2 separate regions of the Homo sapiens genome follow, and region 2 is linked to region 1. The links come from fine-mapping of genetic effects on gene expression. A gene starts in region 1. The other region holds a variant in brackets. All regions are shown on one strand. Distances are between the middles of the regions.

Evidence for each region. PIP is the estimated chance that this variant, and not a neighbour inherited with it, causes the effect.
Region 2: its variant is the best candidate, but not a certain one, in a credible set for the expression of SHLD3 in adrenal gland (GTEx, PIP 0.61).

The regions. Positions count from the first base shown.
Region 1 is chr5:65,622,927-65,628,313 of GRCh38, forward strand. SHLD3 (shieldin complex subunit 3) reads left to right here and starts at 2,101. Exons shown (of 2, transcript NM_001365341.2): 1 at 2,101-2,180. It overlaps TRIM23 (tripartite motif containing 23), which reads right to left and starts at 1,407. Exons shown (of 11, transcript NM_001656.4): 1 at 1,268-1,407. The coding sequence starts at 1,348. TRAPPC13 (trafficking protein particle complex subunit 13) reads left to right here and starts at 2,101. Exons shown (of 13, transcript NM_024941.4): 1 at 2,101-2,180. The coding sequence starts at 2,135. RefSeq lists enhancers at 1,077-1,406, 1,537-1,616.
Region 2 is chr5:65,217,920-65,223,306 of GRCh38, forward strand. The region is part of intron 18 of ADAMTS6 (ADAM metallopeptidase with thrombospondin type 1 motif 6); the gene reads right to left. Among named protein-coding and RNA genes, the nearest start is that of ADAMTS6, 260 kb to the right of the region's middle. The variant G/A (reference allele first, on the strand shown) is at 2,222.

The sequences.
Region 1 (5,387 bases):
CAAACTGCTCTTCAAGTATTCTCTACTTAGCAAAAGCACAATTCAATAAATAAAATCTCAGTCACACAACATGCCTAATAATGAGGGCTCCTTTGCATATCAGATATGCCGTGTACCTGTAGAATAACTTCATTAGTACCTAAAGGTCATCTGAATCAACAACCACCAATATTCACTGATACTAAATTGTGGGAAGAAATGTCTCATTTGCTGTCATATAAAACCAACATTACCTGAATAATCATAGGTGTCTACTTTTCAAGATGTGAAAAAAACTTCATATATTACCTTGATCAGTAATTCATAACCCTGGTTGCACATTAAAATAACTTCTGGTAATTCCTAAAATATACTGATGTCAACCTCATCAGAACTGGAGGAGGAGTGCATCAGTAGTGTACTAAAACTCCTCAGTGATCCTAATATGTAGCCAGGAATGAGAATTATCAATCTCTTAGATTAGAGATGCTCCTGAAGGTTACTCTATAAACCAATGGGATCAGTTCTCCCCTCCATATCTTTCCGTGCACAACAGTGGAAGGGAAAAATGAGTGCCACATATTTCAAATGATTTTTTAGCAAATTGATTCTGGAGCATGTATACATGGTAGAATCTCAAACTTCAAGCATAAGAAAATTCATAAACTCTATCGTTAATGCCCAGCTATGACGATGCTGCAGACTTGTGCAAAGAGTTAATAGACTGTACTACTAACAGGGGAGGGGGCAGCTCACCCAATAACAGATGTCTGATTACAGACGCAGTACAAGAGCGAAAAGTACAGACTTTAAAGCCGGTCAACCCGGGGCTCTGCCACACACTGTTTACCTAAACCTGGGTTTCCTCCCTGTAAAATGGGAATTCACATCTACTTCATAAGTAGATATTAACGAGCTAAAACACCTAACTTAGTACGTAGTTACGATGATGATGACTCAATTTATAATACTAAGCTAATTAATGTCTGTTGAGTTTAACTAAAAGCAGAGGACCTGGAGAAAAGACCGGTCTAGGTCACTGCCACTGGCCCGCAAGCTCCTTTTCACAAATGTCCCGATGATGACATGTCATGAGCAGAAGACCAGGCAATTTCAGGCCATAGGAGAGAAAGGATGCAGAGGACAGGACGAGACTTGTAATGCCAAAAGGGGCCCAGAGGCCGCGCATCCCACCTATCGAAGCCTGGGCCGCGGCGATGCCGCCAGGTCTCCAGGATGAACCGAAGGGAGGCCGATGGTGGAGAATAGAGCACGCAAGGTCCCTCACCTTCACTACAGCTGTCCCCCGGCTGCCCTGCCGGCCACTGTCTACTCCCGCTCCGAGCTTGTTTACAACCAGGGTAGCCATCCTCGCAGGGGAAGCGCCACAGAAACAGCCTTCAGAGTCCTCAACTGAGAGGCGGGGTTGAGCCACCTACCCAGAGGCCTCTGCGCACGCCACCGGCGCACAGGCGCAGTAGGACACTGGGCGCCGCTTAGCCGACTCTTACTCCTCCTCCCCGCAATCGTCGGGTGGTTAGTTGCACAGCCTCGCGCATGGGCACTTTTGTTATTTTTCATTATGTAGTCTGCAGCTGCTGGAGGAAAGACAAGAAAAAAAAAGAAGGGACAAAACGATTAAAGTTTTGGGGTGAAAACTCCAGATCCTTTAATGATTTTTCCTCTCGAATCCAAACCAGCCAGGGCGTGAACTGAGGGCGGTGAGGGGGTACGGGCATCTCCCTGCATGCAACGCGGTTTTTGTATAAACTACAAATCCCAGCATGCCACTCTCTCTCTCTCTCTTTTTTTTTTTTTTTTTTTTTTTTAAAAAAAAAACTCCGGCAACGTTGGCCTTTGGGAGGCCGCGTATTGTTACCTAGGGGTGGTTTCTTTTCCTGCAGTCGCGATGTGTGATTGCAGATGGAAAACAAAGTATTTTATGCCTACGTTTCTAAGATAGAAGAAATGGACTTGTTGAAAAGAAGCCAGTTTGTAAAGGACACAGTAGGAGAATTTAAGGTACCACCACCAGAGAGAGGTTGAGAGTGCGTTTGACTTTTGGTTTTGCCAAACGCGAGGTTTTCCGTTTCCTTCCGGGGCAAGTTGAACCTGTCCAGCCCCCGTAGGCTGTGGGTCAAAAGTGCCGGTCAAAATGGAAGTGAATCCCCCTAAACAGGAGCACCTGCTGGCGCTAAAAGGTAAACTTTTGCGAACCTGATTCCCCCTTTTCTGTTTCCTTGCATTCCCTACTTATCGAAGCCTTTGCCATGTAGGCCTCATCCTTCTTAAACACTCAGTGCTCGCCCTCCTGCTCTGTCCTTTGCCGCCAAGCGGGAGGAAGCGATTTCTCCTGGATGCTTTTTAGGTTTATGGGCCCCTTTCTAGAACGAAATAGATACCTGGTAAATCGTTCTTTCTGATCTGTGCTGCTTCAGTCACGAGATTTTAGCCGCAGAAGCTGACGTCCCGCTCCTACCGTGGAGATCTCTGTGAATTACAGCGGGCATCCAAAGTGCTTTTTCCTTCTGTCTCTTGTTTCTTCCTGTGGCACTGACGAAGTTAATCAGGCTTCAGCTTCCCCTGTAAAATTAGTATTGCATGACAGTAGTGCAGAGAATTTAGCAATACATAGTAATACAACATATAACTTAGATTTATTCAAAACAAACTGCAGTTTACTTCAAATCACTGTGTATGTGGGAAATATGTCCGAGATCTAATGTCAACTCTCATTTTTTGTACACAGCCATTTTGAGTAAGTTTGGTGATTTAATTAGATCATTATTTAGGAAAAAACAGCAGCACTTTTTTTTTTAGGACAATTTTTTTAATGCCTATTTTCTGGAAACCTTTTATTTGAAATCTTTTCAGCTTTATTTTATTTGTTTTTTACTACAACAAATGCGCTTTTTGTTTCTTGGATGCCTTAATATATGGTTAACAATGACTTCTTGAATGAGCTGAGGAAATGCTCAATAAACATTCGGGTTCAATTGAATTGCGCTTACTTTACTTATGGCATCCATTTTGAGGAACGCCTTATCCTTCCCATTATGATGTAGTCATCAGACTTTCTAGAAGCTCATCAGTCTCATATAATGATGCCTGTGTTAGCGAGATTGTCTCTTACTGTGGAACTTTGTAATGTTTAGTGATACAGTGATGGGACCTGTAAGCTTAACCTGAGCAAATGATCTAGACTAAAATGGAGATTAAAATGGATTGTTACTCGTGGAGAAGAGGGAAAAGAAGAAAAGCAACTAATTGTCGTGTTCTTTATCTCACAATCTCACTTCAAGTATGTGGAGTAAATATTAATTCTCAGAGTTTAAGTAACTTTTCCAAGATCACATAGCTAGTGATTGAGGCAGTGTTTCAACGCAAGGCCTGCCTCTCTTTCCAAGAGTCCGTGTTGCCTCCTAAAGAATGAAGCAGCATTCTCAGAGATAATTCCTCTACCAGCTACTCCGATGGGAATTTGGAACAGTTCTATTAACTGCTACGTGTGATTTATACAAATTAGAAGCTATTAAAAACAGTTAAATTGCAGCCGCGCGTGGTGGCTCACCCCTGTAATCCCAGCAGTTTGGGAGGCCAAGGCGGGTGATCACAAGGTCAAGAGATCAAGACCATCCTGGCTAACATAGTGAAACCCCGTCTCTATAAAAATACAAAAAGTTAGCCAGGCGTGGTGGCGGGCGCCTGTAGTCCCAGTTACTCAGGAGGCTGAGGCAGGAGAATGGCGTGAACCCGGGAGGCGGAGCTTGCAGTGATCCGAGATCACGCCACTGCACGCCATCCTAGGCAACAGAGCGAGACTCCATCTCAAAAAACAAACAAACAAAAAGTTAAATTCCAGTGATACAGAGACTGCCACTGGGAATTTTTAGTTTTCTGTTATTCTTTTTTTTCCAAAACCAAGGATACCTAAGAAAGAATATTTAAGCAGCCTAAGCCAGGCGTGGTGGCTCACGCCTGTAATAGCACTTTGGGAGGCCGAGGCTGGCAGATCACTTGAGATCAGGAGTTGACACCAGCCTGGCCAACATGGCGAAAACCCGTCTATACCAAAAATACAAAAATTAGCCAGGTGTGGTGGTGTAATCCCAGCTACTCGGGAGACTGAGGCAGGAGAACCGCTTGAACCTGGGAGGCAGAGGCTGCAGTGAGCTGAGATTGCGCCACTGCACTCCAGCCTGGGTGACAGAGTGAGACCCTGTCTCAAAAAAAAAAAAAAAAAAAAAAAAAAGAACAATAAGCAGCCTAAACGGACAAGTGCTTCAAAATTGACTGATAGTTTCAACTTTATTAAACCTCTTTAGTACCATCTTATAGTTAACCCATTGTTCTAGTTAATCAACAATTTTCACACATTTCAATGTGCTGATGCTGAATGCCAAATGTATTAATTTAAGTGGTCATTTAAGTTCACTTTATCTTTTAATATGTAAAATGTTAAAGATAATATCTTGTTATTCTTGGTTGGGTGAGGTGGCTGATCACTTGAGATCAGGAGTTCGAGACCAGCCTAGCCAACATTATGAAACCCCGTCTCTACTGAAAATACAAAAATTAGCCAGGCGTGATGGTGTGCACCAGTGGTCCCAGCTACTCAGGAGGCTGAGGCACAAGAATCACTTGACCCTGGGAGGCGAAGGTTGCTGTAAGCCGAGATTGTGCCACTGCACTCTAACCTGGGCAACAAAGACTCTGTCTCAAAAAAAAAAAAAAAGTCATCCCTTGAGTATAACACTGATTGACTTTAGACAACAAGAGAATTTCTCAGTGCCATATTTTACAATGTGAAAGTATAAGGAACAGGGAAGAAAAACATTAGTGCATCATTAGTTCTTGAAAGTATATATGATAACATTTAGATCCATATTTAAAATATGGATGTTAAAGATCACAATTATTTATGAATTTGAGAGTTGTCAGATCTGTTAGTGGGCAGTATCAGTAGGTAAAAATAATGAAATTATTTCTTCTAACTCTTCAGAATCAGACAGTGATTCTATTGTGAAATGATGACAAGAATCCATACTCATGGTTATCCTAGCAGTGGGAGAACCCTCATCAAGTAATTCTCTAATGATTTTTGGGGAGAAGGGATTCAACTTATTTTTTTCTGCTGTTGTTAGGATGTGAAAAAGTCTGTTTTATGGCTCTTACAGCTTTGGGCCTGATTAGCAAGCCTAACTTGCAGATATTGGAAGGCTCCATTCTTGAGCCTATGCACCATATGCTGGAATTTATTATCAGTGACTTAATTTGGGGCAACTTGAGGACTTCTGTGCTCTAAGAGAAAAAAATAGGAGTCTAGACTTCTTGTTCTCTTCCAAACTGGAATTCAAAAGCCATGGTATTGGGGTCTCCATACTGTTTAATTGCCTGGATTATGAGGA
Region 2 (5,387 bases), 410 kb before region 1:
TTTTCTCATGCATTGACCAGAACTGTGCAGAGACCATGATCTCCACAACTTTCTGCTTGGAGACACTTTCTTTAGGTGGAGAACCCAAGCAGAACACAGTGGTCTCACCAAGTGAAGAAGAGAGATCAGAAACTGGGAAGGCTGACATAGCTGGAATATGCAGGACCAGAGAACAAGAGAGGAAGGAGGAAATCTGTTGCTGAATATTGATCTGCATATGTATAGGATAAAATTACATAAAGCCAGGCAAAAAATCTACTGTGGAGCTGTAAGCAGAACTACTGCATTTCAATCACCAGGCCATTCAGTAGAGACCCAAGAAGAATCATGCTTTTGCAGGAGGGCTGAGCAAGCTCTAGAATAAAGAATATTCTGGATTTACCCAAACAAAGCTCAAAAGCAAACATCAAAAGGATCAAGCAGATCTACAAGTTACTTGACACCCTTTAAAAAAATAAATCAAAATCCAGGCTCTCAACAAAGAAACATTCACAGTGTACAACATCCAATGAGAAATTACTACCAATGTGGAAAAGGAGGAGAATGTGATTCAAACAGGAGGAAGGCAAAGCCAAAGAAACAGACCCAGAAATAACAAAAATTATGGAATTAGCAGAAAATAATTTTCAAGTAGCTATTATAAATATATGCAAGAACTTTAAAGGAAAACATAATGAGAAGAAACATGATGACATTACATGTATATACACACATATTTATAATAGATGGAAACTGAGATCTATACAAAGAAAGGAAGTATGCCAGATAATGGTAAATATGTGGGTAAATACAAAATAATTTTGCTTGTTTTAAAATTTTTTAAAAAGATAATTGGCTCTTTGAAACAAAAATAATAACCATATATTGTGGGATTTATAACATATAAAGAAGTAGAAAGTATTAAAAAAAACAGCACAAAGAATGGAATGGGACAATGGAGGTAAACTGTTGTAAGGGTCTTACATTATACATAAAATGGTGCAATATTATTTGGCAATGTATTATGATAAATTAAAAACGCATTTTGTAAATCATAAAGCAACCACTAATTAAACAGAGCAAAGAAGTATAGCTAATAAGCTATTTATTAGAGATTAAGTGGAATACAATAAAACCCATGGTTATTCTAAAAGAAGGCATGAAAGGAGGATTAAACGGAAAAAAAACACACAGGACAAACAGAAAAACAGCAAGATGGTAGGCTTAAACCCAACGATATTGATAATTACATTAAATATAAATGATCTAAACAAGAAGTCACCAAACTTATGACCCACCTCCTGTGTTAGTAGATAAAGTTCTATTGGAACACAGTCACACCCATTTATTTATTACCTATGTCTGCTTTCACACTACAATGGTAGAAGTGAATAGTTGTAACACAGACTGTAAGATTTACTGTCTGACCCTTAACAGCGATAGTTGCCGACCCCCAACCCCCCCACCAAACTAAAGATTAGAATTTAAAAATGCAATGATTGTTAGACATTATAAGAAATCAAGATTAAACTACATGTGTTCTACAAGAAACAGATTTTAAAGACAGACGTACCTACATATGAAAAGTGAATAGATAGAAAAAGATTTACCATGCAAACACTGATCAGAAGACAGCTGGGGTAGCTAGATTAGTATCAGATAAAACAGACTTTGCATCAAAGAATATTTTTAAGAGATGGGTATCTCACTATGTTGCCCAGGCTGATCTCAAACTCCTAAGCTCAATGATTCTCCTGCCTCTGCCTCCTGAGTGGTTGGAATTACAGGCATGTGCCACCATGCCAGACTGGTCATAGAATATTATCAGGAATACAGAGGAACATTTGAAAATCATAAAATGCTCAATATATCAAGAAGATGTAACAATCATAAATGTCTATACACCTAAAACATAGTTTCAAAATAAATGAAGCAAAAATCTTACAAACTATTGGGTTGGTGCAAAAGTAATCGCAGCTTTTGCCATTAATAAGAACAGTAAACAAATCCACAATTCTAATGGGAGATATCGACGTAATTCTTTCAGTAATTCTTCAACAAGAAGGCAGCAAATAAGAATATAAAAAATGTGAAAAAACTATCCAACCAAAGGATAGTTGTGTCCTTTAATTTCATGAACATTAATGGAATACTAACCCCAAAATAGCAGAATATGCATTCTTCTCAAGTGCACATGTGCTAGACTATAAAAAAACCTTAACAAAAAACTAAAATCATATAA[G/A]GTGTGTTTTCTGTCCAAAATACAATTAAACTAGAAATCAGTATCAGAAAAGTATTTGTGAAACACCAAAATATTTGGAAATTAAATAATACCTTCTAAGTCATGAGTCACAAGATAAATAAGGAAATATTTAAAACTTCATAAGGAAAATAAAATGTATCATATGTCTGACAAAATTTATGGTAAAAAAAATGCTTGTTTTATAGCAGAAAAAAGATTTTTAATCAGTAATTTAAGTTTGTATCTTGAGAAGCTAGAAAAAATAAGAACAAATTAAAACAAAGTGAATAGAAAAAAAGAAACAAACAGAAGAGTGGGAATTAGCCGGGCGCAGTGGCTCACGCCTGTAATCCCAGCACTTTGGGAGGCCGAAGGGCGGGTGCATCATGAGGTCAGGAGATCGAGGTAATCCTGGCTAACACGGTGAAACCCCGTTTCTACTAAAATTACAAAAAAATTAGCCGGGCGTCAACGTGGGTGCCTGTAGTCCCAGCTACTCGGGAGGCTGAGGCAGGAGAATGGCATGAACCTGGGAGGCGGTGCTTGCAGTGAGCCGAGATTGCGCCACTGCACTCCAGCCTGGGCAACAGAGCGAGACTCCGTCTCAAAAAAAAAAGAAGAGTGGGAATCAATGTAATGCAAAATAGACAAACAATAGAGAAAATCATTTAAACTGTAAGCTTGTTCTTTAAAAAGATCAATACAATAAAGCCCTCATTAGGATTATCAAGGTAAAGAGACAAATTTTCAGTACGGAAAATGAAAAGAAGAGCCATTGTTACAGATCCTACAGATATTAAAAAGATAATAAGAAAATATTATGCATAATTTTATGCCAATAAATTTGAAAACTTTGTTATAAAAATTGAATTTTTCATTAAAAACTTTCCACAAAGACAACTCCATTCTAGATAGCTTCACAGTTGAATTCTATCAAGCATTAAGAAACAATTCTCTCCAGACTTCCAGAAAACAGAGGAGAAAGGAACACTTCTAAAGCCATTTCATGAAGCCAGGCTTAACCTGATACAAAAACCAGCAAAGAAATCACAAGAAAGACTCTAGAAAAATATCTCTCATGAACATAGGTCCAAATATTCTTAATAAAATATTAGCAAATCAATTCCAGCAATATATAAGAGTAATAATAGATCATGAAAAAGTGGTTTATATCCCAAGAATACTACATGGATTTTACATTTGAAAATCAATCAATTTATTTACTATATTAACAGGGAAAGGGAGGGCAAACCCCACCTAATCATGTCAATAGATTCAGACATCTTCAATACCCATTCATGACTAAAACTCTAATAAAAACTAGAAATAGAAGGGAACATCCTCAAACTGACAAAGGTCATTACATAAATCTTCTAGCTAACATTATATTTAATGGTTAAAAACAATAACAACAAGGAATGATTTGCCCTTATGATTGGTTGAAAACAAAAGGCTGCCTAGTCTCCTCATTTATTCAGCATTGTACTAAAGGTCATGAACTCTGTTATAAGGCAAGAAAAAAGAAATAAAGGGCATAAAGATTGGAAAGATAGAAGTAAAAGTGCCTTTGTTCGAGGATGACATGATAATCTATAGAGAAAATCCAAATGAATTTACAAAACAACTGTTAGAAGTAATATGTGAGTGAACCAGGTCTCAGGACATGAGGGCAATATAAAAAGAAATAAACTATATTATTCCCTAACAACAAAAAACTGGAAATTAAATTAAAATACAATAATATTTACAATAGCACCAAAAAGCATGATTAGATTTAACAGAACATGTGTGCAAGACCTATATACTGAAAATGAAACATTGGTGAAAAAATTTTAAAAAGACCTAAATAAATGTAGAGGTAAATCTTTTCATGTATTAGAAAATTCAGTATTTTTAAGATGTCAATTCTCCACAAATTAACCTATAGATTCCATATACTCTCTTTCTGTATAAAAAGATTTGTCTCAATTGACAAGTTCATGCTAATATGTATATAGAAATATAAAGGACCTAGAAAAGCAAAAATAATGTTGAAAAAGAACACATTCAGGGACTAATGCTTCTGGATTTCAAGACCCGCTGGGAAGCTCGATTACTCAACACAGTGTGGTGTTGGTTTAAGGACAGAAACCTAGATCAATGGGTGAGAACAGAAATAGACTCATCCATGTATGCTTAATTGATCTCTCACAAATGTGTCAGGGTAATTCAATGGAAGAAGTGATAGTCTTTTCAACAAGTAGTGTTAGAGCAATTGAATATTCATATGAAAAAATGGAACATCAACCCTTACTTTATACCTTATATAAAAATTAACTTAAAATTGACTGTATGTGTTTTTCAATTTTATTTTTGAATTTCATGTATCTTACATTTCTTATCATAGTTTTAAGTCTTAAGTCATTACTCTAAGTGTTAAATCAAAGGATAGGGTGTTATTCAAGTAAATAAATAATTGTTCTTCCCCAAATAGATTTGCCTGGTTGTCTCTCCCCCTCATAGGTATCAGTCGTAGTATGCACAATACACGTCTTTAATGACTATATTTTGCATTTGTATTTTACATTTAATAAATATATTTTATATTTTGTAGACCATATATTTAAACATAAAAATAAAGACTATAACTTCTTACATACTGAAAACTATCTTTGCAATATTGGAGCAGGTAAAATTTCTAAGATAGGACATGAAAGCACAAACCATTAAAAAATTAATAAATTGAATTTCATCAAAATTAAAAGGCACTTCAAAAAATGAAGACGCAAGCAGAAACTAGGAGAAAATATCCATAAAATATATCTGACAAAGACTTATATCCAGAATATATAAAGAACTCATAACTCAAAAAAAGGAAAAAAAAATTTTAAATGGGTAAAATATTTGTGTAGACACTTCACTACAAAAAAATCCATATGGATAAAATTAAAAAGACTGACAATACCAAGTATTGACAAGGATGTAGAGCAGCTGGAACTCTTCTATATTACTGATAGAAATATAAAATAATACATCCATTTTGGGAAATATTTTCATACTTTCTTTTTTTTCCAGCTTTGTTGAGGTATAACTCACAAATAAAATATTAAGTTTAAGGTGTACAATCTGATGATTCAACATACATAAACATTGTGAAATGAATACCACAATCAAGCTAATTTACATA